Linked DNA regions of Homo sapiens. The protein of the gene in region 2 purifies or fractionates together with the protein of the main gene of each other region. This does not show direct contact. Each region holds a gene or a part of one and is shown on either strand. Other genes may lie near its edges.

What was found.
Region 1: the proteins of CTNNBIP1 (region 2) and TK2 purify together in Homo sapiens (affinity purification with mass spectrometry; 2 studies listed by BioGRID and IntAct, with this or other methods). This does not show direct contact.
Region 3: the proteins of CTNNBIP1 (region 2) and CTNNA2 purify together in Homo sapiens (co-immunoprecipitation; 3 studies listed by BioGRID and IntAct, with this or other methods). This does not show direct contact.
Region 4: the proteins of CTNNBIP1 (region 2) and BPGM purify together in Homo sapiens (affinity purification with mass spectrometry; 2 studies listed by BioGRID and IntAct, with this or other methods). This does not show direct contact.

Annotation. Positions count from the first base shown.
Region 1 is NC_000016.10:66,506,896-66,512,665, forward strand, and holds the end of TK2 (thymidine kinase 2, mitochondrial isoform 1 precursor), read right to left. Parts: intron 5,172-5,770; coding exon 5,073-5,171; 3' UTR 1,108-5,072; downstream 1-1,107. UniProt on the Homo sapiens protein: Phosphorylates thymidine, deoxycytidine, and deoxyuridine in the mitochondrial matrix. In non-replicating cells, where cytosolic dNTP synthesis is down-regulated, mtDNA synthesis depends solely on TK2 and DGUOK.
Region 2 is NC_000001.11:9,899,817-9,907,966, forward strand, and holds part of CTNNBIP1 (beta-catenin-interacting protein 1), read right to left. Parts: intron 1-8,150. UniProt on the Homo sapiens protein: Prevents the interaction between CTNNB1 and TCF family members, and acts as a negative regulator of the Wnt signaling pathway.
Region 3 is NC_000002.12:79,872,516-79,880,665, reverse strand, and holds part of CTNNA2 (catenin alpha-2), read right to left. Parts: intron 6,591-8,150; coding exon 6,324-6,590; intron 1-6,323. UniProt on the Homo sapiens protein: May function as a linker between cadherin adhesion receptors and the cytoskeleton to regulate cell-cell adhesion and differentiation in the nervous system. Required for proper regulation of cortical neuronal migration and neurite growth.
Region 4 is NC_000007.14:134,649,567-134,657,716, forward strand, and holds part of BPGM (bisphosphoglycerate mutase), read left to right. Parts: intron 1-8,150. UniProt on the Homo sapiens protein: Plays a major role in regulating hemoglobin oxygen affinity by controlling the levels of its allosteric effector 2,3-bisphosphoglycerate (2,3-BPG). Also exhibits mutase (EC 5.4.2.11) activity.

The DNA.
Region 1 (5,770 bases), on a different chromosome or scaffold from region 2:
TACTCTTACCATATCCAGTAAAGATACTGTTTTCCACAGTTATTTGTTAGTTCTGTTCTTTCCTGCCCCCTTCAGTATGGTTATGTTACTCACCTGCGGTATGGTGGAGTTCATCTGTAATTTTGTTTTCTGTTTTCCCTACATCCTGGTTGCTCTTATTTATTTTGGCAGTATGTGAAGGGTATGTGAAACATTGCTACATCACAGTATGTAACAGTCAGTTATAGAAAAAGACATTTCAGGCTGGGTGCAGCGGTTCACTAATCCCAGTACTTTGGGAGACCAAGGTGGGCATATCACTTGAGAGCAGCCAGGCCAAACTGGGGAAACCCTGTCTCTACTATTAGCCAGGCGTAGTGGCACACACCTGTAATCCCAGCTACTCAGGAGGCTGAGGCACGAGAATCACTTGAGCCTGGGAGGTGGAGCTTGCAGTGAGCCAAGATCACACCACTGCACTCCAGCCTGGGTGACAGGGCGAGACCCTGTCTCAAAAAAATAAATAAATAAAATAAAAAGATATTTCAAAGAAGTGTCATTCCCTTCTCATCCCTGTAGCCCAGTCTCATCCTTCCCTTCTTTCTAGCCTTTACCCACCAACCTATTTTGTCTCTGGGCGTCCTTCCTATATTTCCTTTGCATCTGTGTATTTTCTTCTATCGGTTTTCTTTTTATTTTTCGAGATGGAGTTTCATTCTTGCTGCCCAGACTGGAGTGCAATGGCGCAGTCTCGGCTCACTGCAGCCTCCAACTCCTGGGTTCAAGTGATTCTCTTGCCTCAGCCTCTCAAATAGTTGGGATTACAGGTGCCCACCACCACGCCTGGCTAACTTTTTTGTATTTTTGGTAGAGATGGGGTTCCCCCATGTTGCAGGCTGGTCTTGAACTCCTGACCTCAGGTGATCCACCCACCTCCCAAAGTGCTGGGATTACAGGCGTGAGCTACCACGCCTGGCCTCTCTTCTTTCTAATATAAAGGGTAGCATACTATAGACACTCGTTTGGGCATTGCATTTTTCACATAACTTTATGTCCTAGACATTACTTCATAACCATTCAGAGAGATCTTCCTCATTCTTCTGTATAGCTGCACAGTACTCCACCATGTGAATGGAAAATGGTTTATTTGACCACTCTCTTATGTATGCATCTTTAGATTGTTACCAATATTTTGTAATGATTAACCATCTCCCAGGACACCTGTGTTCCACAGAGCCCAGTCTGGTAAACAACAGTCTTAAAGAAAAAAAAAGAAAAGACACAGAAAGAAATTCAAGACAGCTTCTGTGGACAGCAGTGAATGGCAATACCCATTCTGGATTCCACGACATAGGCTTTCTCTTAGCTTCTGTTTAATGATAGCTTTTGCCAAGTTCACCATCTTATGTAAACTAAAGGAACACGAAATTCACTCTAGCCTTAGGAAAGCTGAGGGGATGGGATTATTAGGAAAAGAAAGTGTGTGCCAGTAACCCTGAGGCCTTCAGTGAGTAATCCTGGCCAAGCCCAGGGCAGCCAGGGATGTATTATTGCTATTCCATTCTGAACAATGGATGACTGACATTTGCAAGAGCTTGCCAATTATTTTAATAACTAACTCTTCAGGGTGGAGAGGGCCAAGGAGATGGGTGTTCCTCATTCCACACACATGTGAACACTTGAGGGAGCTCCCCACCCCAGGGCTCTAGGAAAAAAGAAGTGATTCAGATTCCATAGCACCCTGTGGGTAGACAGGTTTCAGGACCACCTTTTACCTGCTCTGAGGTTTAAATGGCACCACCGTCACTCGGGTCTAATGGTGCATGTCTGCAGGAAGATTGTTCTGACTGATATATTCCCCAGGCGGGGGGACACTTCTCATCTAGGTAAAGGGCTCCTACGGAAATGAAAGGGGCAGAAAGAGAAAGTGAAAAGTAAAAACAAGCTGGGTAATGTTTCCAGAGGTCCACATTCACTCGTTTGTAAATTCGGTCACTCATGTTATTGGAACAAGGATGAGGTGGTTTCATTCCTCACAGAGTTAGGCCTTGCAAGGGACATTACGGTACGGGATGGGAATGGTGAGGGTGAGGATGAGGGTGGGATGACGTGGGGGCAGAGGGGAGAGGGAGGTGAAGCCCAAAGGACCCCACGGCGCTGATGCCAGGTCATGTGACCCGGTCTATGGGTGGGCACTGCCCTCTTGCCTTTCCCCCCACCTCCCAGGGCCTCTAGCAAAGCCTCGTAAGAACCTTCCAGCTTATCTTAGTTATGCCTTGGAAAGGGACATTACCAGCATCTGGATTAAAGAGTGGATGGGGAGCAGTGGGCTCTGATGCCAACCGTGCCCAGAGCAGGAGCTCCAGCTGCCATCCTGGACAGTCAGGCCCCAGAGGAAGGAAGCCAGGAGCCAAGAGGTGGACCCAAAAGAGAAAGGTGGGAAGAGCCTGGGACCCCGATGGCCACTAAGCCACCACAAAGCCCTGGACCACCCCACTACACACTTCTTTTATGTAAAAGATAAATATATTTCTATCTAGTTTCCAAAAAAAACCAGGTACATAAGGTATTTTTAAATGGTTATAATCATATATTTTACATGTACTGTCAAAAAGCTTAAATAAAAGCTGAAATAAATGCTAATTGAAAGAAAATGTATATGTGCAACAAAAAAGTCAGCGAGAGGTAGAGCAGCTGAGCAGCTCTGCGGTGTACTGACTTCATGTCCCCATGGAACTCCAGTCTCACAGCAAGGATGAGGTGAGCCCAACATATCTGGAATGTCACTGCCCTGGGTGGCCCCTCTGGCTCTACAGGGATGCCAGCCCCTGCCATGCCCCTCCCAGCCATGACCCCCCAGTGCTCTAAGGACAAGGCCCTGTTGTGCCCATGTGCCATCTGCCCTTCTCCTGCCCTGGTCCATGGTGTCTATGACTGCTCTGTGACCCCTGCCCCCACCAGCTCTGCCTGCCGCAGAGGGACAGCAGCCCTTGTGCAAGCTGGCTTCAGCCGTTTCAGGTGTGGTCTCTAGGCTGGGAGATTTTGCGACCTGCCCTGGCCACTGCTGATGCGTCCAGCCTCCTCTCCAAGGTGGAAGGCAGGGAGGACAGCAGGCTCTCTTAGACCCATACACTCCACGTTAGGAAACACGGAGTTTGAAAAATAAAAACACGTTAATCTACTGGCAAAAGCAGCTGGCAGAAGCTAAAATCACTGGCCTAGGAAGCACTTCAAAATCAACAACAGGGCTTAGGTGAAGGAGTTATTGGGTATCACAGAGCAAGAAAAAAATCATGGGTACGTGGTCTCAGGACCTCTTGAGATTGTGCCTTAGGCAAAAAAAAAAAAAAAAAAAGAGAGAGAAATCACATTTCCCCAAAAATGGATGTGCAAAATGAGCCGAGAGGAAATATTGGACTGTTCATTTACAAATTCTCAAAGACAGACCCCACATGTCAAGATTCCTGGTAGCAAAGGTTCTGCCTTCGCCAGTTTTCCAGCTAATTAGCAGCACGTGGGCTACAGGTGCTGCTAGACACAGCTCCCGCCTGGCTGCTGCCTCTCATCCTGCCAATGGCACAAGAACTGGTCCAAACAGGAAGAACCAGGAGTTGCAGGCCTTGACTTCCTAACTCTCTGGGACTGGCCCAGCAGGGGCACTTGGCACCTCTGCAGAGTCGGAGCATTGCATGCACAGGTGCCCACACTCACAGGGGCCTGGGAGCGGCCTTGCTACCTCTATTTACAGCCAACAGCTGCTCTGAGAGGCTGTGGCCTGTTTCTCCAGAGTTGAGCCTTAATCCTTTCCAGGGTTTGCATCTAGTCTTCTTGAAGCTCTCTCTGCCCACCTCCAAAGCTTCAGGACCAGCAATGCTTCCAGAGCCTTTATTTGCAAATCCCAACTTTCCAGACTATCCCCAAAGGGAACGTTCTTTCTTTCTCTTGTTTTCTGCTTGATCCAAGGGGCAGCCTCGCCTTCAATGCAGTCCAGCTGAGTGAAGCTAAGGTATTTTCTGAGCCAACAAAGATGATTTCAGGCTCTATGGCTCGAGGCATTTCCCTGGATGAAATAACACTTCAAAAAGACTTAAGGCCACTTGTGTCTCTCTCTTGGGCCACAGACTTTCAGTAATTCCAAGAGCAAAGCTCCTTATACAAGGACACAGACAGTACGGGAGCCTTGGAAGCCAGGGCTGGCTGCCCCTTGCCCCAGCTTGGCTCTGGGCAAACCAGCCAGGCACCAAAAGCGACTTCCCTGACATGGAGTTGGCAGCAGTTCAAGCAGGACCTTAATCACCAAGGAGACTGAGCACCCTTCAGGAGCCAGCATGTGAATCTCAATGTCCACATGAAGATGTGGTAGATGGGGCTGCAGCGACCTCGGGCAGGGAAACCACTGAACACCGGGCTCCAGCCAAATGCAGCATAATTTTGTGGAAGTCTAGAAATGCTGACTGTCCTTGGGAACTGCTCAATATTGGGAAAATGTTATCAGCTCCGCACACTGCCAGCTCTCCCCAAAGAGACATGAGAGCCTCCAACCGGAAGAGGCAGGGCGGTGGGGAACAGCTCTCAGGAGGAGGCAGCCCAGGGCAAGGGAAAGTTGCTGAGTCGGCTGAAAGTCTGAATGGTGCCAGCTCCACTGCACACAGGCTGTGTGACCTCTGGGGAGCCCCTCAACCTTTCTGAGCTTCAAATTCCTCACCTGGGATATAAGACTCCTACCTCGGCCTCCTAATGAAGGCTGAGACGATTGGTACACAGCTCCAGCGTGGTGTCAGGCACACAACAGGTGCTCTCCCTAAGGGCTTCATGAGAGCGACTCAGCAGCACAAAGCCATGGGAGAGGCACCGGGGGAATGTGAGGCTGCGAACAGCAAAGGGCTTGGCAAACCCATTGGTCCCGTTTGTCATTTACCCACGAGGGCCAGAGACGCATGACAAAGACACTAGCAAAGGAGATGAGACCATTAGGAAAATCAAGCTGGCCAGACACAAAGCCCTCCTGGGAGCAAGTTTTTCCAGATTGCTCCCAATAGCTAACTTGGCAGCAGCAGGCATTTTTCAGACATGAGCCATAGACCTTTTGCCTCCTATGGGCAATGCTTCCGATTCTCTGGAGTTAATATTCGATCCCGATTTTGTTCAAAGAGTTCTAACATCCTCTCCATGTGGTGGTCAGCCTCAATCACCTGGAAATTAGACACATGGGTCACAAGGCTGCACTGACCTCAGCAGCATCCTCCTTTCACAGCTGGAGACAGACAGATGGAAGCAGGCAGCAGGGGGCAGGGAAGGGCACAGAAGGTTGCAGGCAGATAAAAAGGAAGGTTAGAGCCAAATCGCTTTCAGCTCTAGGGCAATCTACATTTCCAATGAGGTTTTCACTTAAGAATGTACTACAAGAGCTAGGTATGGTGGCTCATGTCTATTATCCAAGCACTTTGGGAGGCTGAGACCTGAAGATTACACGAGCCCAGGAGTTTGAGACCAGCCTGGGCAACACAGTGAGACCCTGTAAGCTCATGAATGATTTGTTTTTTTCCCTCATCACTTTCTACCCTCCTTTTTTTCCATAATGAGGGAGAAAAATAAGCTGTACTTATTTAAAAATCTACTACAGTAGGCCGGGTGCAGTGGCTCACGCCTGTGATCCCAGAATTTTGGGAGGCCGAGGCAGGCAGATCACTTGAGGCCAGGAGTTTGAGACCAGCTTGGCCAACGTGGCAAAATCCCATCTCTACGAAAAATATAAAAAATTATCCAGGCATGGTGGCATGCGCCTGTAGTC
Region 2 (8,150 bases):
TAATCCCAGAACTTTGGGAGGCCGAGGTGGGTGGATCACCTGAGGTCAGGGGTTCGAGACCAGCCTAGCCAACATGGCAAAGCCCCACCTTTACTAAACCTACAAAAATTAGCTGAGCCTGGTGGCACATGCCTGTAATCCCAGGTACTCGGGAGGCTGAGGCAGGAGAATCCCTTGAACCCAGGAGGCAGAGGTTGAAGTGAGGCAAGATTGCACCACTACACTCCAGCCTGGACGACAAGACTCCGTCTCAAGAAAAAAAAAAAAAACAATCAATAGAATGCCATTAAAATGAGTGAGGTGGAGGCCGGGTGCTGTGGCTCACGCTTGTAATCCCAGCACTTTGGAAGGCCGAGGCGAGCAGATCACAAGATTGAGACCATCCTGGCTAACAAGGTGAAACCCCATCTCTACTAAAAATACAAAAAATTAGCACAGCATGGTGGCATGTGCTTGTGGTCCCAACTACTTGGGAGGCCGAGATGGGAGGATCACTTGAGCCTGGGAGGTTGAGGCTGTGATCACGGTGAGCTGTGATCGTGTCACCACACTCCAGCCTGGGCGAATGATGTTTTTAAATGAAGTGGAATGCGGTCAGATGAGAATGAAAGAACACCCTTCATCTGAGTGCTCTTGCCAGTGCAGTGCGGTGCCTGACGCTAAGCACTTCAATCTCCACTGTCACCACTCATGGACCTAACAGGCCACTCCTCTTTAGAGATTAGGAAGTGAGAGTGGGAAGCCAGCACCCAAAGCAAACACAAGGCAAACGGGCACACGTGACCCCTTGTGCCAGCAGCAGCAGACCTCAGGAGGGAGGAAGGAGCCAGGTCTCTGCACTGCTCCGGCTGCCCGAGCTCCCTTACATCCCACCACAAACTCTGGAAGACTGCTCTGTGCAGGAAAGCAGAACTGGGGGCCAGCTTGCTTGCCTGTAAGCCCCACCATGTCTTCCAAAAAATCACCAGCACCTCATCTTCCTGCAACTCCAGCGATCGGCCAGAGGAAGGCTATGTGCCCCTGGAGGCTGTGGGCAGTGCCAACAGTATTAACACACACGGAGGGAGAAGGACCTTCTGCCTCAGTCCAGAAGCCGAGTGTGAGCACACGCTCAGGAACAGGCTCATAGGGCCTAGCCAGAGCTGACCTTGGCAGGTACTTTTGCTCCCTTCTTGGTAAGTAAAATGGGATTATTCAGGGGCTCAGACCCACCACTTCACCAGCTTAAGTGCTACCAGTACTAACAGCTTCACGTATTTAAATCATACCCCAGGCCCCTCCCCAACACACAAAAAAGAAATGTAAAATTACAGAGAAGCATTAAAATGTCATCTACCTGGAAAGAATAACAGAAACCTAGAAGTTCAGAAACAGGTCTCATTTCATATTCCTGCAGCAGAAGGATATTTAGGATATTTGGCAAGGGTGCAAGTCAGGGTCAGGATGGGTCTCTGGGAAGCCAGGGCTGCCTGAGGCAGGTGGCTGTGAGGCCTGTCTGGGCAGGGAGGTCAAGGCTAAGTATCTCCTTGGAAACTGGTCCAAGGTTTGCTTGGTGATTGATCAGGAAGAACAGGGGTGGGGCCCATATTATGTGAGGTGTTTGATCCACAAGGGATCCTGATCTTTGCAGGAAGCCTTGCTGGTGGAATCTAGGACTTCAGGGGTGGTAACTTCATCTGCCCTGGGGTGGTTATTCGGTTCAGGTCAAGGACATTGACCACAGGATTCCAGCAGCAGAAAACATGTGGGTTAGACACTTGGGTGCTACTCGGGCCTGAAAAAAACACCTTAATTGGAGCTGGCTCTCAAAGCCTCCTCCCCAGCTCTCCATGTGGGAGAGGATATGGAAGTGGGTCACAATCTTCTAGCTGAAACAGCGTCACTGCGGGCTCCAATCACACTTGAAGATGTCCAGGTGCACTGAGTGACCTGGCCTCCTCGCTGTGCAGGCCTTGCCTTCCTAATCAGATGCTGGATGCTGCTGCCCCGCCCCTCAGCTTGAAGGGCCAGCTGATTAGCACCGGGAGTGCCACATACAGTGACATGACAAGGGCTGGTGAAAATAACATCGCACAAGGATATGCCTCGCTGTCCTGGCACCCTCCTCTCACTCCAAATGTGAGTGGCTGCCTCTGCCAGCCCTTTGCCCTCTCTACCCAGCCCTGGCTGGAGGGAGAGAGGAACACTGTGTGCTTTCACATGAACTGCTTGCTAGACCTCCCTGACCTTGGTCTTTGAAGAGAGCTGAAGGCCTGGTGCTTGGGGAAGAAAGAACCCTGCCCCCACTCTAATCTGTATATATTGACCCAAAATGGGGGCCAGAGGACATAGGTGTCCATGTGCATCAGTTCCCCCAGGAACCCCATGAGCACTGTGGAGAGCCCGCCTGCCACCATATGCCTGCTTTCCAAAGTTGGCAGCGAGAGACGTGTCGGGCAGGAAGAGAACTCTGCAGAGACAAGGTCTGGCGCCTGTTACATAAGAAGTGCACCGTGTTAATGGCAGAACTTCAAAATCCACAGCCCCAAGCAAAAACTTTGAAAAGAAATCCTCAATATGAGCATTTCTCCCTGACTGAAACTCAAGTTAACAGTCAAAGGGTTAAGGCTTTAAGTGGGAAGGGAGTTCTTGCTAACCATGGCTCCTGAGGTGTGCACTGTTTCTCAAGATGTCCATACCAAGTACAGCTTTTGTTACAGGACACGGAAGGGCTCTAATTGTTTCACTCTTCCCTTGCTCTTCTGGAAAGCCAACCCAGCCCCCCACCTTAATGTCCACTCAGGGCAGGTAGCCACTGGGGCCAGTGTGCATCTGGAGATCATGTCCTGACTCTCCTCCTAAGAGTTCAAAGCACTCTCATCAAATCATTCTTTCTTCATTCACACGATCCCAACTATATAATAAGCCTTTTGGTCCTAGACTAAGAGCTTGGTATGGGGAAGAACTTTTTTTTTTTTCTTTTTTTTTGAGACAGAGTCTCACTCTATTGCCCAGGCTGGAGTGCAATGGTGCAATCTCAGCTCACTGCAACCTCCGCCTCCAGCGTTCAAGCAATTCTCCTGCCTCAGCCTCCCGAGTAGCTGGGACTACAGGTGCGTACCACCACGCCAGGCTAATTTTTTGTATTTTTAGTAAAGACGGGGTTTCACCATGTTAGCCAAGATGGTCTCAATCTCCTGACCTCGTGATCCGCCTGCCTTGGCCTCCCAAAGTGCTGGGATTACAGGCGTGAGCCACCACGCCCGGCTGGGGAATAACTATTTTTGTCCTGCTTGCCACGATATTCCTAGTACCTATGATGGTGTCCAGATTGTAATAAAGCCTTAATAAATATTTGTTAATTGAATCAATGAGTCATTAGAAGGAAGGAGGGGAGGGAGGGAGGAGTAATGGAAGACAACCACCACTTCTTGGTGTCTCTGTGATCCTGGCTTATAAAAAACATCAGAACCAAGATTAGAAACCAAGCCCTTTAACTCCCTCTTGGCCCTGCCATTGGGGGTCCTCAATCATGTTATGATGCACAGAACACATACCTGTTTACAGAAGTTTCTACACTACAACACAACCATGAAAAATGGAGCCACAGGTATGACCCTCAATCCTTAAGAAACTTCAAAAGGGGAGAACAATGTTTTTGTCCAGCTATTCCCCCACAGAAGGACACCCTTCCCTCTGGGGACTGTTGTCTTTCCCTTTTTAACAAGGCTTCATGGAAGACCAGAGCATAATAGGTCTTTAATAACTGAGTATAACAGTAGTTGGTGCTCAGTTCCCTTTCATAAAAGAAGTTCAAAAGCACTTTGGCTCAAACACCACCATGCCCCTGGGAACTACGAAGGTACAAGTATCATTATCCCCATTTACAGTCAGGGAAAGTAAAGCAAAGGGAGGCTACTTAGCTTGCCCAGGGTCAGACAAGACAGGGAAAGGGCCTAGGATTCAAACCCTTTGGAGCAGCCAGCAAGTTAACTCTGACTACCCTAAGAGTATCACCTACATTGGGCTTAAGGGAGGCTTTTCTTTCTTCTCTATGGTTTCTGCTGAGAATCAGTATATGACATGGTGCTCAGAGCTCTGCCTGGGAGTCATACTGCCTGGTTTGAATCTGATTCTGTTCCCAACTAGCTCGACCTCAAACACTTTACTTAACTTTTCTAGGCCTCAGCTTCTTAACATACAAAATGGTAATAATGGTACGTATCTCAGAAACCGTGAGGATGAAATGAGACAGTGTATGTAAAATGCCACTATCATTCACTTTCTCATTTTCTAAATGAGCACGTATCATTCTCATAGTAAGAAAACCAGCTACATGAGAAAAAGCTTGCACCCACTCTGCGTTTAGTTTTTACAAATCTACAGATGACATATGACTAGCAGGCATTTCAGATTCTGCCAATAAAATGCCCCAGGACTCTGAAAGTGACCTGCAACACAAGCGTCCTATTTGATTCCCACTAACTTGTGTTGGTCTCTCCAGGTTAGCAGAGCAAGTGGCATCGTGGACAACTGATGGGAGGACCAAAAAGGGATCTGAAAAGCTGGCCAATGGCACCCAGTCTAAAGAGTCCCACTCTGGATTCCTGGTGAGTGGAGCCCCTGGGTTTGAAATGCCATTTCTCTCAGCGCTCTGCTGAGTTACCCAACTCCGCTCAGCCCAGATGAAAGACAACCAATGCTTTCTAGATACCACTGTGTTCCTGATCAAGTAATCAAACAGGAGATGGTCAGAGTTGCCAGTGTGGCCCAACCCTCTATAGAGGGGCCTGGTGATGGCAGGGACTGGCAGAGAAGTAGGGATAGGGTGGGGGTAGGAAAGCTGTCCAGTCAATCTTGGTATACTCTCAACAAAGAAACAGTGATATACATGTATGTGTGTCGCTGATGCATTTATGAAGAATGGCTGCAAAACTCCAAGACTACTTAAGAGTCACTGCCAAGATAAGAAGCTTTAACTCACACAGAGAGGAGCAGAGAACACAGACATTCCACTGTAGACGACAAGCTGCTAAGCACTGGCAACATTCATTCATTCAACTCAAGAAATGTTTGCTGATGACTTAGGGACTCGGAAAAAAGGAAGCTCAATAAAATGCAGGACACACAGACACACATACCAGGACTGTCATCAACCTAGCTGATGCTTCCCTCATCTTCAGGGGACCAGGCCAGAGAAATAAGGAACCTGATGGGAAGAAACTCAATACTCTGGCTGGCCTCAAAAACCTCCCAGGACAAGGAGAGCCTATTCCAGCCGCTCTTCGTAATGTCCTGTTCTGTCTTTTAGTGTGGACTCAAATATTCTCCTAGACCCCAGGAAAAGTTCCCATGCAGTGACTTCCCACTGTTCAGAATTCAAAAGTAAAATCCAAACTCCTAACCACAGCCACAAATTTGGCCCCTGCTGATTCATCACTAACCACACTCCAGCCCCTCTGGGTTGATCATTCTTGCAGTCCTCTCTGTCCACAAAGCTGTCCCCCTAGATCACCATCCATGTCTCCCAAAAGCCACCTTCTCAGAGCTAAAGTTATGACCCTAACCCTCGTCCCATCCACTTTCTATCTTCTGTTTTATTTTCCCCCGTATCTCTTTCACCACCCTACATTCTTTTTTTTTTTGAGACAGAGTCTTGCTTAGTCGCCCAGGCTGGAGGGCAGTGGCACGATCTTGGCTCACTGCAAGCTCCGCCTCCCGGGTTCACGCCATTCTCCTGCCTCAGCCTCCTGAGTAGCTGGGACTACAGGCGCCCGCCCCCATGCCCGGCTAATTTTTTTTTTTTTTGTATTTTTAGTAGAGACGGGGTTTCACCATGTTACCCAGGATGGTCTCGATCTCCTGACCTGGTGATCCACCCGCCTCGGCCTCCCAAAGTGCTGGGATTACAAGCGTGAACCACCGCGCCCGGCCTCACCACCCTACATTCTTTTGTTGACTCGTTTATTTGTTTACTATCTGTCTCTCCCACTAGAAGATAAACTTCATAAGAGCATGCCTCTTAAAGACCGTGTTCTTGGCTACGTCCATAGCATCCGCAACAGTGCCTAGCACATAGGTGCTCAATCAGTCATTCAATTCAACAAATATTTTCAGAGTACTACAAAGTTTAGGTACTATATTATAAGAGTAGACAAAAAGAGACAAAAATCTCTGCTCTCAAAGAGCTTAAATGCTGGTGGGAGCTAAGAAGCAGATAAAAAAAGGCGAAATAATGGTTACTTCAATTTAGCATATACCAAGTGCTAGGTGGTCTTCTGAGTATCTACTAGGTATTACTTAATTTAATCCTCCCAACAACTCCATGAGGAAAGTATTACTATTGTGCATATGGGGAAACTGAGACACAGAGAGATTAAGTTACCTGCTGAAGATCATGCAGCTCCTGAAGGCAGAACCAAGATCCAAACCTGATGGTCTTGGTACAAAGTCCATGGTCTAATTAAGAGCTACACTTCAGGCCAGGCACGGTGGCTCACGCCTGTAATCCCAACACTTTAGGAGGCCGAGGTGGGTGGATCGCCTGAGGTCAGGAGTTCGAGACCAGCCTGACCAACATGGTGAAACCCCATCTCTACTAAAAATACAAAAATTAGCCAGACGTGGTGGCACACGCCTGTAATCCCAGTTACTTGGGAGGCTGAGGCAGGAGAATCGTTTGAACCCAGGAGGCAGAGGGTTGCAGTGAGCCAAGATTGTGCTATTGCACTCCAGCCTGGGCAACAAGAGCAAAACTCCATCTAAAAAAAAAAATAATAATAAAGAGCTACACTTCATATTTGCTGAGTGTCAAGTGACTACTTGGTCAGCACCAGCAGCAGCTGTTCCCCACAGGCAAGGATGGAGAGAGCAGATCCATCAAGGAAGGGCTGCCCTGTCATGTGAGCCCTGTGAACAAGACACTGCTGGGTTTACACTATATTGCACCCTGGATGAGGAGTCTACAAGAAGCATGGTCTGATGAAAAGACAGGGGCAGGGGCAGGAGTCTTGGTGCGATGAGATGCCCAGGCAAGTCAACCAATATTTGAAGAGTTTACATTTTGTGCAGGGCGCTGATTCAGACACTGTGGACGATGCAAAGACAAACCCAGTAGAGATTCTGGCCTCAGAAAGCTTAGAGTCACATGTGTACACATGGAGATGAAATGGGGTAGAAACTAGCAGGCATCATAAGAAAATGCATAAACTGCTATAAGATTTCAAAAGAGCCAGCTTCTAGGGGACACAGACGCTTAACCATAAAAGAAGGGGCTGGCCTGTGTAACCCCCAAGGTCCTCTCATTCTGACATGTTCTGACAGCACAGATTTGGAGCAGCATGGAGATAAGTTTTATTCTGTTTTTTGGGGAGTTTTTTTGTTTTTTGTTTTTGAGACAGAGTCTTCCTCCGTCGCCCAGGCTGGAGTGCAGTGGCACGATCTTGGCTCACTGCAACCTCCACCTCCCTGGTTCAAGCGATTCTCCTGCCTCAGCCTCTCGAGTAGCTGGGATTACAGGCACTCGCCATCATGCCCAGCTGATTTTTGTATTTTTAGTAGAGACGGGTTTTCACCATGTTGCCCAGGCTGGTCTTGAGCTCCTGACCTCAGGTGATCCGCCCGCCTTGGCCTCCTAAAATGTTGGCATATACAGGGGTGAGCCACTGCACCTGGCCTCATTCTCATTAATAGCTCAAGTTTGTGGCCACTGAAACATTCTCCTACCTACCATGAGAACAGGCCCAATTTCCTGGTGCAACATCTTCCAACAGTGGCAGTAATGTTCCCATTTAAACAATACAACCGGATGTGGGAATGAAACCCAGTGTATTATGCCCTCCTCCACCTCTAACTGGTTTTTAAACCCACAAACCCTCTCCAATCAAGGAGGCGGGGACCTGTTCTGTGAGCACGTTGTTATGGGACATCTAACTCTCAGTCTCCAAAGTTTTGCTTTGCAGCTCTCCCAGAGGGAACAGACTGATTCCACCTCTTCGTTTCCACTGCCACTGCCCCGATCCCTCAAGCCACCATCATCTCTTGCCAGGCAGCTGCAATAGTCTGTCTCATAACTGGTATTCCTGCCTCCACCTTTGCTCCTTAGAATCCAGTCTCTACACAGTGGCCAGAACAATCTTTTGGAACAAATCAGACTTTATTCTTTCTCTGCT
Region 3 (8,150 bases), on a different chromosome or scaffold from region 2:
GATATCACCATTGACCCCACAGAAATACAAACTACCATCAGAAAATACTATAAACACCTCTATGCAAATCAACTAGAAAATCTAGAAGAAATGGATAAATTCCTGGACACATACAGTCTCCCAAGACTAAACCAGGAAGAAGTAAAGTTATGGAATAGACCAATAACAAGTTCTGAATTTGAGGCAGTAATTAATAGCCTACCAACCAAAAAAAGCCCAGGACCAGATGGATTCACAGGTGAATTCTACCAGAGGTACAAAGAGAAGATGGTACCCTTCCTTTTGTAACTATTCCAAACAACTGAAAAGGAAGGACTCCTCCCTAACTCATTTTATGGAGCCCGCATCATCTTGATACTGAAACTGAGAAGAGATGCAATAAAAAAGGAAAACTTCATGCCAATATCCATAAGGAACATCAAAGCAAAAATCCTCAATCAAATACTGACCAACCAAATCCAGCAGCACATAAAAAACTTACCCTCCATGACCAAGTCAGCTTCATCCCTGGGATGCAAAGCTGGTTCAACATAGGCAAATCAAGAAAAGTAATCCATCACATAAACAGAACCAAAGACAAAACCACATGATTATCTCAATAGATGCAGAAAAGGCCTTTGATAAAATTCAACATCGCTTCACATTAAAAACTCTCAATAAACTAAGTATTGATGGAACATACCTCAAAATAACAAGAGTTATTCATGACAAACCCACAACCAATATCATATTGAATGGGCAAAAGCAAGAAGCATTCCCTTTGGAAACCAATACATAACAAAACTGCCCTCTCTCACCACTCCTGTTCAATATAGTATTAGAAATTCTGGACAGGGCAATCAGGTAAGATAAAGAAATAAAGCATATTCAAATAGGAAGATAGGAAGTCAAATTTTCTCTGTTTGCAGACAACATGATTGTATATCAAGAAAACCCCATCATGTCAGCCCAGAAACTCCCTAAACTGATAAGCAACTTCAGCAAAGTCTCAGGATACAAAATCAATGTGCAAAAATCACAAGCATTCCTTTACATCAATAACAGACAAGCAGAGAGCCAAATCATGAATGAACTCCCATTCACAATAGCTACAAAGATAATAAAATACCTAGGAATACAGCTAACAAGGATGTGAAGGACCTCTTCAAGGAGAACTACAAACCACTGCTCAAGGAATTAAGAGAGGACACAAAAAAATGGAAAAACATTCCAACCTCATGGATAGGAAGAATCAGCATTGTGAAAATGGCCATACTGCCCAGAGTAATTTATAGAATAAATGCTACTTCCATCAAACTACCATTGACATTCTTCACAGAATTAGAAAAAGAAACTACTTTAAATTTCATATGGAATTAAAGAAGACCCCGTATAGCCAAGACAATCCTAAGCAAAAAGAACAAAGCTAGAGGCATCATGCTACCTGACTTCAAACTAAACTACAAGGCTACAGTAACCAAAACAGCATGGTACTGGTCCCAAAACAGACAGACCAACGGAACAGAAGAGAGACCTCAGAAATAACACCACACATCTACAACCATCTGATCTTTGACAAATCTGACAAAAACAAGCAATGGGGAAATAATCTCCTATTAAATAAATAGTGCTGGAAAACTGGCTAGTCATAGGCAGAAAACTAAAACTGGACCCCTTCCTTACACCTTATGCAAAAACTAACTCAAGATGTATTAAAGACTTAAATGTAAAACCCAAAACCATAAAAACCCTAGAAGAAAACCTAGGCAATACCATTCAGGAAATAGGCATGGGCAAAGACTTCATGATGAAAACACCAAAAGCAATTGCAACAAAAGCCAAAATTGACAAATGGTATCTAACCAAACTAAAGAGCTTCTGCACAGCAAAAGAATCATCAGAGTGAACAGGCAATCTACGGAATGGGAGAAAATTTTTACAATCGACTCATCTGACAAAAGTCTAATATTCAGAATTTACAAGGAACTTAAATTTACAAAAACAAACAACCCCATCCAAAAGTGGAGAAAGGATATGAACAGACACTTCTCAAAAGAAGATGTTTACATGGCCAACAAACATGAAAAAAAGCTCAACATCACTCATCATTAGACAAATGCAAATCAAAACCACAATGAGATACCATCTCAGGCCAGTCAGAATGGCAATTATTAAAAAGTCAAGAATAGATAGATGCTATAGATGCAATTGGTGCTAGCAAGGCTGTGGAGAAACAGGTACGCTTTTACACTGTTGGTGGGAATGTAAATTAGTTCAGCTATTGTGGAAGACAGTATGGCAATTCCTTACAGATCTAGAACCAGAAATACCATTAGACCCAGCAATCCCATTATTGGGTATATACACAAAGGAATATAAGTCTTTCTACCGTAAAGCCACATCCACATGTATGTTTACTGCAGCACTATTTACAATGGCAAAGTTATGGAACCAACCCAAATGCCCACCAATGATAGACTGGATAAAGAAAATGTGCTACATATACACCATGGAATACTATGCAGCCATAAGAAGGAATAATATCATGTCCTTTGCAGGGACGTGGATGAAGCTGGAAGCCATCATCCTCAGCAAACTAACACAGGAACAGAACACCAAACACCACATGTTCTCATTCCTAAGTGGGAGTTGAACAATGAGAACACATGGACACAGGGAGGGGAACAACACACACCAGGGACTGTTGCGGGGTGGGGGCAAGGGAAGGGAACTTAGTGGATGGGTCAATAGGTGCAGCAAATCACCATGGCACATGTAAACCTAGATAACAAACCTGCACATTTTGCACGTGTATCCTGGAACTTAAAGTAAAATTTTTAAAAAATAAATTTTAGGGCAAACTAGCTGTGCTGTCTATGAAAATATATTTTGCATTTTTATGGTTCCTTTTACTTCAGCATTTCAAAGACGTTAAACTTATTTAAATTTTCACTATATGAGAAAGGTATTATACCAAGTATCAGTAAGAGATTTTGCCAGAAAAGTAAACCACAGGAAGTTTGAGTGAGTTTTTCACCCAATGAAATATCAATTTGTTTAATATCTGAGAATAGCATTTAGGACTCATGACAGATGTCCATGAATTCAAAATCAATTTCAAGTTAGCATGCCTAAGAAATTTTTAAAAAAACAGTATTCATCATACAACTATGGAACAGAAATTTATAATTTAGTCATAAAATAAAGAGAAACGGTATATTATTTTAATGAGAAAATTTCAAGTATCATTAACTACTGTCTAGGTTTGCTGATGTCAGAAGTGATGGAAAATCTACAGCAGGTGAATCACATTACAGTCTGTAAATTCAATACTAATTTACTAGCATTACTACTTTTGAGAAAGTGCTGAAATTAAATTGCATTTGTTAAATGACAATTGTTAGGGAACCACATCAAATGGAATTATTGTTTCAAAACTGCAATTCAGACAGCCTCCACATTTTGATTTTTGTTGACCTCCAAGAAGTAAAATGTTGACCATTAGATAACGCTTTATGTAATTCTCATAGCTTGAGAAACAGTATACATTTAATAAGAATATATTACCTCATTAATATACTTAGCTAATATAAAATATAATTTTTTCATTCATATATAATATACTGAGTTAATATTATAAGTAATATAATTAGTTAATATAGAAGTTTAAAGTTAATAAAATATAGTTAGTGACTTATTTACCATATTATACTTTATATTTTAATTTTTCCAACTGTTTCAAATATATCATGTTTTATAAAAAACATGTTTGATGGTTATATTCATGTGTTAAATTTCCAAAGCCTTATTTGTCCAGCATGAGGAGATATCACTTCAGGAAAAACAACAACAACAAAAAAAAAACCTTGAACATTCAACATGTTGACATACTTTGCTAATAGATTTTCCCCACATGACCTCAAGTTTGATTTTTATGAATGAAAGCCTTTTGCACTGTTGCACTGACGCATCGGTTGTTACATTAATTGGGGATAAAAGGTGCTTTTAATGAAAATCGTCTGGAAACAAAAGGCAGCATGGGGAAGCAGCAGTTGTCACACTCTTGGACAGAAGGTGGCAGCAGCTGAAGTTCCTGGACTGTTCACAGGCCTTCTCTCTGTGCTTCATATTTTCACTCTTAACCAGCTCCTCACTTAGGTTTTGTTGTTTATTTTTGATTATAAAATAAATTATAACTAGAATAATGTAATTGTGTCAAAATCTGACTAAATAATCCATTCTTAACTAATTTTAATAAACACCAATTTATAAAATAATTTTGTATTTGAGATTGCCTATGATTTTTATTCTTTCATGGATGAGTCCATTTGTGTTTCAATACACACCTTTAAAATTAATGTAGCATTACAATGTTTTAATATCTGTGTGTATGACCTGCTCATTTACTTTTCCCTGAAATATGGGCTCATTCATTCTTTATTCTAGAATATAAAAAAAGACAAACAAACAAAAATCCTTTATCACTCCTCTGTCAAGTTCCAAAAGAATCCTCTTAGAATTTGTATTGAGATTGCTTCAACATTATGAAAACTGATAGGATCAATAGTTCTCCTACTCAAGATCATGATATCATTTACTGACAAGTAAAACTTGTCCCTCAATAAAGTAATATAATTTGACTTTTTAGGTCCTTCACATCTATATTAGACTTATTTCTAGCAGATATAAGAAATAATAAAATAAAATTAACTTTTTAAAAATTATTTGTTTTGTGAATATCTCCTCGTTATTCTACTTTATTTTACATGATGAAAATCTAGAGATTTTTGTATATTTATGTTATATAAAGTAAACATTATTTTGAACTCTCATTATTTTCTATGAATTTTCAGTTGCTCGCTGCAATTTTGTGAATAAAATTACCTATTATTAAGTCTTCATTTCTGTAGCAAGTGCTTTAAATATATTATCATATTTAATCCTCACAAAAAAAACCTTAGGAAATAATATATGGTGTGAGATACATATAACTAACTGTAAAAATATGGGAAAGAGGAGAGACCACTATGAAAATGGTAAGAACTATTTGAGTATGAACTGTTAAAATTATTCCTCAGTTATATCATCCATCTCCAAGCCTTGAACAATCATTGCTTTGCTCCTGGACCTTTTTTTCCAGCTGCTAACTAGTTATTTCTTGCCAAAAATTCACATCAACATATTCAAAAGCAAGCTCATCATCTTTCTTCATGACCATTAAGTAACCTATTTTTCTTCTATGAATTCCTGTAACATTGTGTTTTATCAATTAAATGGTGTTTAGTGCATTCTACTTCCCTCATCTCCCCTGCAGGGTTATTTAACCCTGGAAAGTAGATGCTAATTATTTATAAATCTTTGTAGGCTTTCATTGATCATAAGATAAATAAATTCCAACTTCTCACAGGTCCTCTGACCCGGGGGGAATGGGGGCTGTCATCCCGGGGTGCTGATGACATGCGTGCAACCTTCTCACTCACACTGATGCTTCACATATGGCTCAGCACAGTGAACAATCCTCCTTGCTTCTTCCCTCACCAGGACACACCTACAGAAACAGCCAGTGTAGAATGTAGGACTTTCAGAGAACTAACACAGGCTCTCCCCAGAGGGTCTGTTCTAATGAAGACCAGGGTCCTGTGTGGGATCATAGGGCAATGTACTTTATCACTGATTTAAAACAAAGAAATTGATGGCAGCTTTTCACGCAGGCACAACATAGAGGCAACGTACATCTAGGCTGCCCATAACATGTGCCCCTTTAATAATAAAGATGATCGTCAAATTATGAACTGTCCCTAAAATAGCCTGTAAGTTATCTCATCTACCTGGAAGGGATTGGGCACTCTTAAATACAGTTGTTTCTTCTTTTTTCCCCGAGACGGAGTTTTGCTGTTGTTGCCCAGGCTGGAGTGCAATGGCACGATCTCGGCTCACCGCAATCTCCGCCTCCCGAGTTTAAGCGATTCTCCTGCCGCAGCCTCCCGAGTAGCTGGGATTACAGGCATGCGCCACCACGCCCAGCTAATGTTTTACATTTTTAGTAGAGACGGGGTTTCTCCATGTTCGAACTCATGACCTCAGGTGATCCACCCACCTCGGCCTCCCAAAGTTCTGGGATTACAGGGGTGAGCCACCGCAGCCACAGTTGTTTCTTTAAAGACAAGTGATAATGGCTTAGCCAATATATTACAGAAATGCATTATGTAGTTTATCTTACTATTAAAACCTCCAAAAGAGAAAAATCAATGTAAATTATTGTAGTGGCCCTTCATCCTCAATACATTTTTTTTTTTTGTCAACACCAGTGCCCACCCCTCTGTGTACCTCACCAGGATGCTTACGTCAAACTCATTAAGAGCCGCAGCCAGCTCGCCGATGCCCGTGTGGCCCTTGGCTTCGTCAGTGGGCGAGGTAGCTTGAGCAGCATTGGAGATGCCGGCGATGGCCTCCTGGACTTGTTTGAACACATAATCTCGGTTGGCTCTCGTAGCGGCGACATCTGGGTGGCGGAGAAATGCTTGAGAGGCCGTGTACAGCATTGTGGCATTCTTCTTCAGAGCCCCTCGGGCGGCTGCCATCTCATCCCGACAGTGAGGATCCTTCAGCTCCTGTGTGTGTAACACATGAAAGCTGTCACACACATGAAATTTGCATAGAAATATTTGCAACACAGTTTGGAGTCACAGACTCTTAGTAACACACTGAACTTCAGAAACCCTTGTGCTGTTTCTAGCTGCCAGGCCTTTGCATATACTCTTTTGTTTGTTTGTCTGTTTTATAGAGACAGCTAGGTCTCTATAGTGACCTAGGTTGGAGTACAGTGGTGTTATCAAAGCTCACTGCAGCCTCCATCTCCTGGGCCCAAGTGATCCTCCCTCTTCAACCTCTTAAGTGGCTAGAACTACAGGTGCATGCTTCCACACCAGGCTAGTTAAAAAAAAAAAAGTTGTGGAAGTGGGGTCTGGCTATGTTGCCCAGGTGGGCCTTGAACTCCTGGCCTCAAGGGATTCTCCCACCTCTGCTTCCCAAAGTGCTGGAATGACAGCCATGAGCAACCACACCTGGCCTACTGTCCCTTCTATGTGAAATGCCTGAGCTTTCCTCCTCTGCCCTACCCTTTCACCTGACAGGGCTCCACTGACTTGGCACATCCTCCACCCAACTTTCTAAGCTGTGTCCCCTTTCATCTGTTCCCACAAGACACTCTTCCTCTCCTATCACTAACACTTCCTACTTTACTGTATTTTTTGAGCATATATTTCTCTTCTATAACGTACCTCTAATGACAGCAGGGAGCCCTAGTTTTCTTATTCAGTGGCTCTTTAGTCATTAGCAAAGTGGCTGGCCTATAAGAGGCATTCAATAAAATATTGCTGAGATAATATAAAAACCAAGCCACCAAGAAGGTAAATTGATTGCATGGGCCATACAGTTAGTTATGAACAGACAGAAAACCTGAAAACGTCAGTCTTCTGAGGCCCTACTTGCCTCCATATTCAATTACTGTTACAAATGGGAAACCAAACTTCTGATTTTTGCTCAACACATCAGTGTCCCTTAATTATCATTTTCAGAATAGGGTTCCTGCTTTGTTGTTGTTGACAGCCTCTAATGGCAGCTCATCATTAAGTTTAGAGAACAGAAAATAACAGGCCAAAGATGATTTGTTTTCCTAGTTTTGGATGACAAAATAATACCACTAGGGAGTCTCTTTATTTCCATCTTTAAAGGCTGTTGTTAAGAAAATGTTCAAATGATTTTCAGAAATGTTAAAGCAGTGTTGCTCTTTGAGAGCCATGCAGGATTGCCAGCTGTGTTATCTCTGGGAGAATATTCTTCCAGCTGGAAAACATCAGTAAAGCGTATTTGAACCACTGGGCTTCTCTTCCTATTTGCTCATTTGGCACATGATAGATGAATGACCTGGTAACAAGAAATCACATCTTCTGTTTTGTTGGTCAAAACAATTCTGAGACAAACACATTATATTTGATATCTAAGATTGTCACGAAAATTGGTAATAAATAATGAACAATTTACTGAACCATCTTTTTCCCCCTTTGCTTAAGCATTAAAAGATGGATGCTAGGTAACACAATTTCTAAATTGGGATTATCTAATTTGAGCCCCAGAGATGAAAATGGATAAACAGGTAACAAATATTTGAA
Region 4 (8,150 bases), on a different chromosome or scaffold from region 2:
ATATGAAAGATGTTTATATGGGTGGCAGGACAAAAAGTATTACTTAATAACAAAACCCTTCTGCTGAAACTTAGCCACAAATATGAGGAAAACATACTTTGTAAAATATAAATTAAATGTTAACCACTTCATTAAAGCATTTGGATTGCAGAATATTAGTACTTGGTAAGCTTCTGAGACTGTATCTTACCATCACCTTCTTCCATCCCACAATATTTGATTGCATTCCTCCTTCTACCACCTAATTTAAGCATTTCTCCTCTAATTCCTCCCTTCATTTTACTTTATTCCCAGCTTTCGCTTCTGCTCATATCATCGGCAAGGTAGGATTGCTTTGACGGGCCTGAGATCTGTGCCATTATTTATGAGTTAGTCAAAGTCTGCTCCATTCTACCTCTCACTTTTTGGTAGAGTGCTTCACCATAATCTCATTTAATCTTTCTGATAGCCCCCTGAGAACAGTAGTTTCATGATCCTCATCTTTATAGATATGGAACCTGAGGTTCAAAGAATTTAAATAAGTTAAGATCACATTGTCAGTCAGTAGCAGAGCTGGGCTCATATCTAGGTTGTTTTTACTTTAGACTTTTGGAATTTGGTGGACACAGTTTGTGTTGATAAAAGCTACTACCCTGGGGAAGACAATGACCAGAGATAGGAAGGAGGGGTCCGTCATGAGTGGGTGTTGTCCACAGTGGTGATGCCATGCAGGCTGGAACATGCAACATGCCCTGAGCAAATGCACATCTCATTACATATGTATATCTCTTCGCCATGAGTAGGGATCTGCCTGGTATGGTTGGTTATTCTTGTAACAAGCAATCAGTAGGAAATATTAGTAGATGTAAGATTGGGGAATGAGAGGGTTTTAGTGTCTGGAAAACACCTGTAAGTGGTAACATTTGCTCCTGTAAAATGATGTTCTTATAACTGCAAGTACAGATGAAAAAGTTTCTACAAAGCCTTAGGAAAAGTAATAGACCATGGAACACTTTTAGGTACAGTTGTGTTTGAACTTCTAATAGTGAACTTGATTTGGGGGAAGGCATAGTTTGTTAAGACATTAAAAGCCTTGGCCGAGCACGGTGGCTCACGCCTGTAATCCCAGCACTTTGGGAGGCCGAGGCGGGCAGATCACGAGGTCAGGAGATCAAGACCATCCTGGCTAACATGGTGAAACCCTGTCTCTACTAAAGATAACAAAAAAAATTAGCCGGGCGTGGTGACGGTCACCTGTGGTCCCCGCTACTCAGGAGGCTGAAGCAGGACAATGGCACGAACCTGGGAGGCGGAGCTTGCAGCGAGCCGAGATCACGCCACTGCACTCCAGCCTGGGCGACAGAGTGAGACTGCGTCTCAAAAGAAACATTAAAAGCCTTAAGGAACTGAGCCCCAGATTTCATTTCCCTTGAGACCTGTTCCTTTTTACTTTGTTAAAGACATGGTTCTTTTTCTCTGTCCTCAAATAATAGCCAGCCCATCTTCTATAAAGTTAGATTCCTCTTGCAGTGGGGGTTAAAAGTTGCTCAAAGCCACACAATAAGGGGTTTGGACCAAGGAAAACGTCATCTGAGTGTCTAGGGTAGCAACTGACTAATATTTAAATGTGAGCTTTGAATCTAAGTGACTCTGGTTCTATTTGTCTTATTTTATATAACTTCAACATTATATTGCTGATCAAATTTCTTGCTTAAACGTTGGAAATACAAGAAAAACTAGGTTTTTAAGTTGGACTTTACCCTGTAGTTTGTCCTATTTGTCCGTGAGTTGTACCACTAGGGTCTTAGGCATTATTAACTTTCAAACACGTGAGGAAGGGAGGAAGCAAAGTCCCAGGAGTGTCAGTTTGGAAGACAGGATGAGCCTCAGTTATGGGGAGTACTTATAACAGAGGAGCCTCAGTTATGGGAGAAATATAATGTGAAATTATATTTCACATAATTTCATATGTGGAATTATATAGTTTAATGAAGGAGTAGGAAGCAGCAGCAGATGATCATGCTACATTTGTTGAAAGTACTTAGGGATCTCAAAAATATTAAGAGGGGTAACCTTAGTAAATGCAGTGCCTTGCAAGTACATCACTCCCCTATCTACAGTCCCTGTCTTGCCAAAAAGAATGCTAATCTTGAATCATAATTTTATGTTTCAATTTTATGGTGGCATTATGGAAAGAATATTCTTTGCTTTATAGCTAACTTAGATGGAATTTCTATACATTTATAGTGAAAGATCTTTGAAAGTTATAAGTCACCTGCAAAGTATGTTCTTTGATTTGTTTATTGTCAAAGCAATTACATAGCACCTACTCCTGAGCAAGTATACATTCCCCTGAAGTGTGAGGCACTATGGGATAATTTATGAAGATGTCTAATGGGGTAAAGTGTGTCAAAATGACAGATGATATTTTTGAAGGAGATTAACAGGATGAATCCTATAGTTTTCCCCTATAGTTCAATCTTGAACCTATTCCTAAATAATTTAGTTAAGCAAAAGTCAAGTACTCAGACTGATTTAAATGTCTTCAGTATTGCCTTCTGTGAGGAATAAAAACAATTATGAATGGGATTCCATTACTCATGGTACTTGCCGTTCTGGCCAAGAATAAAATCTAGTGATTTCATAATGTTGGGATTATTCTATGACGGGATGCTTAAAGGTTAAAAATGCTGATGTCATTAGTAGATCTAAGTGTGGGATCCAGCTAGGCCAATATCGGCATATTGAGGGCTTCTGGCCTATACCGTTTTTTAAAAAATTTACATTTTTAATTTTAAATTATGGATGCATAATAGTTGTATATATTTATAGGTATATGTGATGTTTTGGTACAGATATACAATATGTAATGATCAAATCAGAGTAATTGATTTACCTCATGCATTTGTCTATTACCTCATGCATTTATTTTTTGTGTGTTGGGAACATTCTAATTCCATTATTTTAGTTATTTTAAAATGCAATAAATTATTATCACCCTATTGTGCTACTGAATACTGATCTTATTTATTCTAACTATAGTTTTGTACCTGTTAACCATCCTCACTTTAACCCCCTCGCTCCTGTTACCTTTCCCTGCCTCTGGCAACCATAATTCTGCTATTGCAATACATTCAATTTTCAAAATTTTTAGCTCCCACATATGAGTGAAAACATGTGAAATTTGTCTTTCCATGCCTGACTTATTTCACCTAACCTTAGGCTCTCCAGTTCCATCCATGTTGTTGTGAATGACAGGGTTTCGTTCTTTTTATGGTTGAATGATATTCCATTGTATATATGTGCCAAATTTTCTTTATCTGTTCATCTGTTGATGGGCACTTAGATTGCTTCCATATCTTGGCTATTGTGAATAGTGCTGCAACAAACATGGAGTGCAGGTATCTCTTCAGTATACTTATTTGCTTTCTTTTGGATGTATACCCAGTGGCGGGCTTGCTGGATCATATGTCTACTACCTGTTTTTGAACAGCCCACAAACTATGCATGGGTTTTACATGTAAAACGGTTGAAATAAATTAATATTTCATGTGCATGAAAATTATATGAAATTCTAATTTCAGTGTCCATACCTGAAGTTTTATTGAAACAGATTTATTCACTTATATATTATGTATGGTGGCTTTCAGCTGCAATGGCAGAATTATACAATTGTACCTAATTATGGCAGAGACCAGTATAGCCTAGAAAGCCTAAAAAATTTGCTATTTGGTGGTTTACAGAAAAAGTTGCTAACATCTGAGCTAAGCTATAGTGTCTTTCACGTTTATCTCCTTCATCTCACTTAAACGGCCATTGTCCTGGTCCAAGTCTTTATTCTGTGTTACCAGAATTATTGCAAAAACCTCTCAGCTAGTGTTCATACTCCTGGGTTTTCCTGTCTATTTCTGTAAGTAAGTGCTGCCTGATCCTGCTAAAATGCATGCTACTAAACTTTTAATGATGTCCCAATATGTATAGAAAAACCTACATGCTTTGGCACAGGCTTTTTTTGTGTCACTATTTTTTCTTATCTTTCTAGGCTAGTCTTCTCCTGCTTCCTTATTATACCCTATACTTACAGTGGCCATATAATTTTCCAAATGGGACACTTAAGTGTGAAAGGGGCCCTAGTAGTAATTATGTTGGGGAAACAGGCCTAAGACAATACTGTTCTGTAATAATGATGCATGTGCCTCTTTCTCCTAACTACCCTCTCTGTCTTGACCTTGCCAAAAGAATGCTAATCTTGAACCATAACTTCAATTTTATGGTGGCATTTATGGAAAGAATATTTTTTGCCTATTAGGCAAATCAGGATGTATGGTTACTCTAGCTATACTCCAACCAGTTTGAATGGGCTCGCCATTTTCCATATGTACCTGTTCCTTTGCCTTCACTCACTGTTCCCCTAGATTGGAATTCCTTTACTTTTTTCTGTAAATCTAAACCTTGCCTTTCCAAATCCAGCTTAAAAAATACTGTGTCCACGAAGCCTTACTCAGAAATATTCTCTCCCATCCCACCTCTCTTTTACTAATGAAGTGCTTTCTCATGGTGTGAATTACTTTGAGTTTTAGGTACACACACACACACACACGTACTGAAGATGAAGACATAATTCTTGTTGGATTACATATTCCTCATAGGCCTAGCATTGGGCCATGCCTAAATGGGATCTGCAAAATGTTTGAAGAATGAATTAATTGGTCAGGCTAGGGCGACTGAGTATTTGGGGCTTTCAATTTATGAGTCATCCATTTTAATGTGATTAAAGCAGTGAGAAAAGGGTTTCCAAGAACTGAAGACTGAGCCTCAGGTTTCAATGTGACAGTGTAGCAAAATGGTTCAGGGCATAGATACAGACTTCTCGAGACTAAATTCCAGCTCTGCCATTTACAGCCTCTGTTACCTTAGGCAAGTTAACCTTTCCTCCTGTTTCTTCATCTGTGAAATGGGAGTAATCATAGTAGCCACTCCATGGAATGGTGGTTGAGGATTCAAACAGTGCCAAGTAACATTGAACTAACATTCACAGGTGAGCACTCTGTGAATGTTGGCTACTGTGACTAATATGATCATCTTCATAGTACTCTTACAGGTAGGTAAGAAAATGCAGACACCCAAGACCAAGATGTAACCGTGGAAGAGCTGGAGGAAATGCTACACCAAAATCTTAGTGGGTTTTTTTTCTTGATGGAAGTAGTCTGTTTTAGAGAAGTCATGAGAGAAGATGATCTCCACTTAGTAAGAAGTAACTAACCTGTAGTCTTTTGAGGCACCATTTCAGTAGAGTGGGTAAGGCACAAGTTTGGTGTCAGGAAACTAAAAAAGGAATGGCTAGAAGGGAAGGTAAATGGACAAGAGGAAGGGGAGGGAGGATAAGATACACAGCTGTGTAAAAGATGTTTCCTTAGTAAACTTTTTCTTCAAGCCAGATCACACTTTAAAAAGGAAGACACCCTGGGGGATAAATCAATAACCTATGTGTTCTTTTTTTGACATGATGTAAATTATTGATTAAAATCGGTACTTAAGTGCCAGTAACTTTTGCTATGGGATAAATGAGAAACCAGGTACAGGTTGGTGAGCTTTTATGAAAAACAAAACAAAACAAAAAAAATAAAGCTTGAGGTTGAAAAGGAATAGTTTTTAATTTGGGATGGGGAGTATTTATTCTTAGTAAGGTTCCTCTTTATAAGTTGGGGTGACTATTGCCTGGCTTACTTTGTGCCTTGAGGTTTTTCTCAAGAGTACTAATAAGGTGAGCCCTCCTTCATGTTCACCTTGTTCGTTTGCGTTTGATGAAATGGCTGCCTGGGTTTGGAAGGACAAGTTGGAACTGGAGATACCCCTGTGAAGTGAAGCCAAGTGAGCCAAGATCCTCAAACCATGACTCTAATATCTCCAGTGGGGGGTTGAAGGCAGAAGACCAGGGTTGCAGTTCCAGTTTGCCATTTACTGGCCATATGTTTTTGAACAAGTCAATCAGAATCTCCATTTTTTTCTGTGGAGATTATGGCCATCCATGAACATACTAAACTTATAGTACAAAAGTACAAAGTACAGAACTATAATGGATAATTATTCTTGGCTCCTGTTTTGACATAAATACCCTGAGATTCTTAAGTTAAAGTTTCCTAACATCTTAGCCCTGCCAACTGATTTTACTGTGGCAGTTACCACTAAAACTCTCAAGCCTTAGTCTCATGTGTACAATCCAGTCATTTCTGTCTGACTTTGGTTCAGTCAGTACACCTACTGAGTGCCTCATATGTGCCAAGCGATGTGCTAGGTTCTAGAGATACAGCAGTAAGACCTGCCTTGATGCAGCTTACAGTCTTACAGGGCACATAGCCATTGAACAGGTAATATATCTCAAGGGATCCATCGCAAGTGCACCAAATGTGGTTAAGCGGGATGCTACAGGAGTAGGTCAGCAGGCCTGACCTACTTCCCAATGGGTGAAGAGGAAGTCTAAAGCCAGGGGTTCTCAAAACATGGTCCTTGGACCAGCCATGTCACCATCACCTGAGGACTTGCTAGAAATGCATATTCACAGTCCCACCCCAGACCTACTAAATCAAGCTCTGGAAGTGGGCCCAAGCAATCTGTTTAATTTGATTTTGATATACATTAAAGTTTGAGAACCACTGGCCTACAGGAACTAACATTTAAGCTGAGCTCTAAAGCTGCATGATCTAGTGCGGTAGCCACTGGTCACATGTGGCTATGGAGCACTTGAAATGTGGCTGGTTCACATTGAGATATGCTTTCATTATAAAGTACACACCAGATTCCAAAGACATACTGTGAAAAAAAAGAATGTAAATTGCCTTATTAATAATTTTTGTATGGATCATGTGTTAGAATTGTATTAGTTCTCATGCTGCTAATAAAGACATATCAGAGACTGGGTAATTTTATAAAGGAAAGAGGTTTAAATGATTCACAGTTCAGCATGGCTGGAGAGGCCTCAGGAAACTTACAATCATGGTGGAAGGGAAGCAAACATGTCCTTCTTCACATGGTGGCAGCAAGGAGAAGTATAAGTGAAGTGGGGGCAAAGCTCCTTATAAAACCATCAGACCTCGTGAGAACTCACTTTCTATCATAAGAACAGCATGAGGGTAACTGTCCCCATGAATCAATTACCTCCCACTGGGTCCCTCCCATGACACATGGGGATTATGGGAACTACAATTCAAGATGAAATTTGGTCTTGGCCCCTCCCAAATCTCATGTCCTCTCATTTCAAAACATAATCATGCCCTTTCCAACAGTCGCCCAAAGTCTTAGCTCATTTCAGCATCAACCCAAAAGTCCAAATCCAAAGTCTCATCTGAGACGAGGCAAGCCCTCTCTGCCTATGAGCCTAGAAAATTGAAAGCAAGTTAGTTACTTCCTAGATACAGTGGGGCTACAGGCATTGGGTAAATATACCTGTTCCAAATGGGAGAAATTGGCCAAAACAAAGGGGCTACAGCAGGCCCCATGCAAGTCCAAAATCCAATAGAGCAGTTGTTACACCTTAAAGTTCCAAAATGATCTCCTTTGACTCCATGTCTGAATGATAGCTTTTGGACCTATAGGATTCATGTGGCTTGTAGAAAATTTAAAACTTCATTGTGCCTCGCATTATATCTTGATTGGACACAACTGATCTAAAGGATGACTAGAGCTTAACCTAAAGCAGGGTGAGACTGAAGTGGCAATGGAGAGAAGAGATGAAGGGTGAGTGTTCTGCATAGGGTACAGTGTGTGCAAAACTACTGAGGCAAGAAAGAACCTGACATGCTCAAGGAAATAAAACGAAAGCCTTGCAGGTCACATGAAGGATTCTGAACATTTTCTAAGACCAGTAGGAAGAATTGAGGTTTTAAAATAAGATACTCAATTTTCAAGGAGTTTAATTGTTAGTTTGCAGTTAATAAATGAGGGCAAGAGAACTTCAACTGAATATAGCAAGACTTTCAACATTGAAGCTCCCCAACTCCCTAGGATGGTGGGGGAGGGGCGATTTGGTCAGTGGAGGAAGCAGGACGCTGCCCATCACCTGAACCTAACCCTAGGGTATGAGGCATGAGCACCCCCCACTAGAGAGAGAAGCAGTGTCACCTGGGAAGAGGTCGTTTTCAGTTCAGATCTTTTTCAGTGCAATTGACACTCAA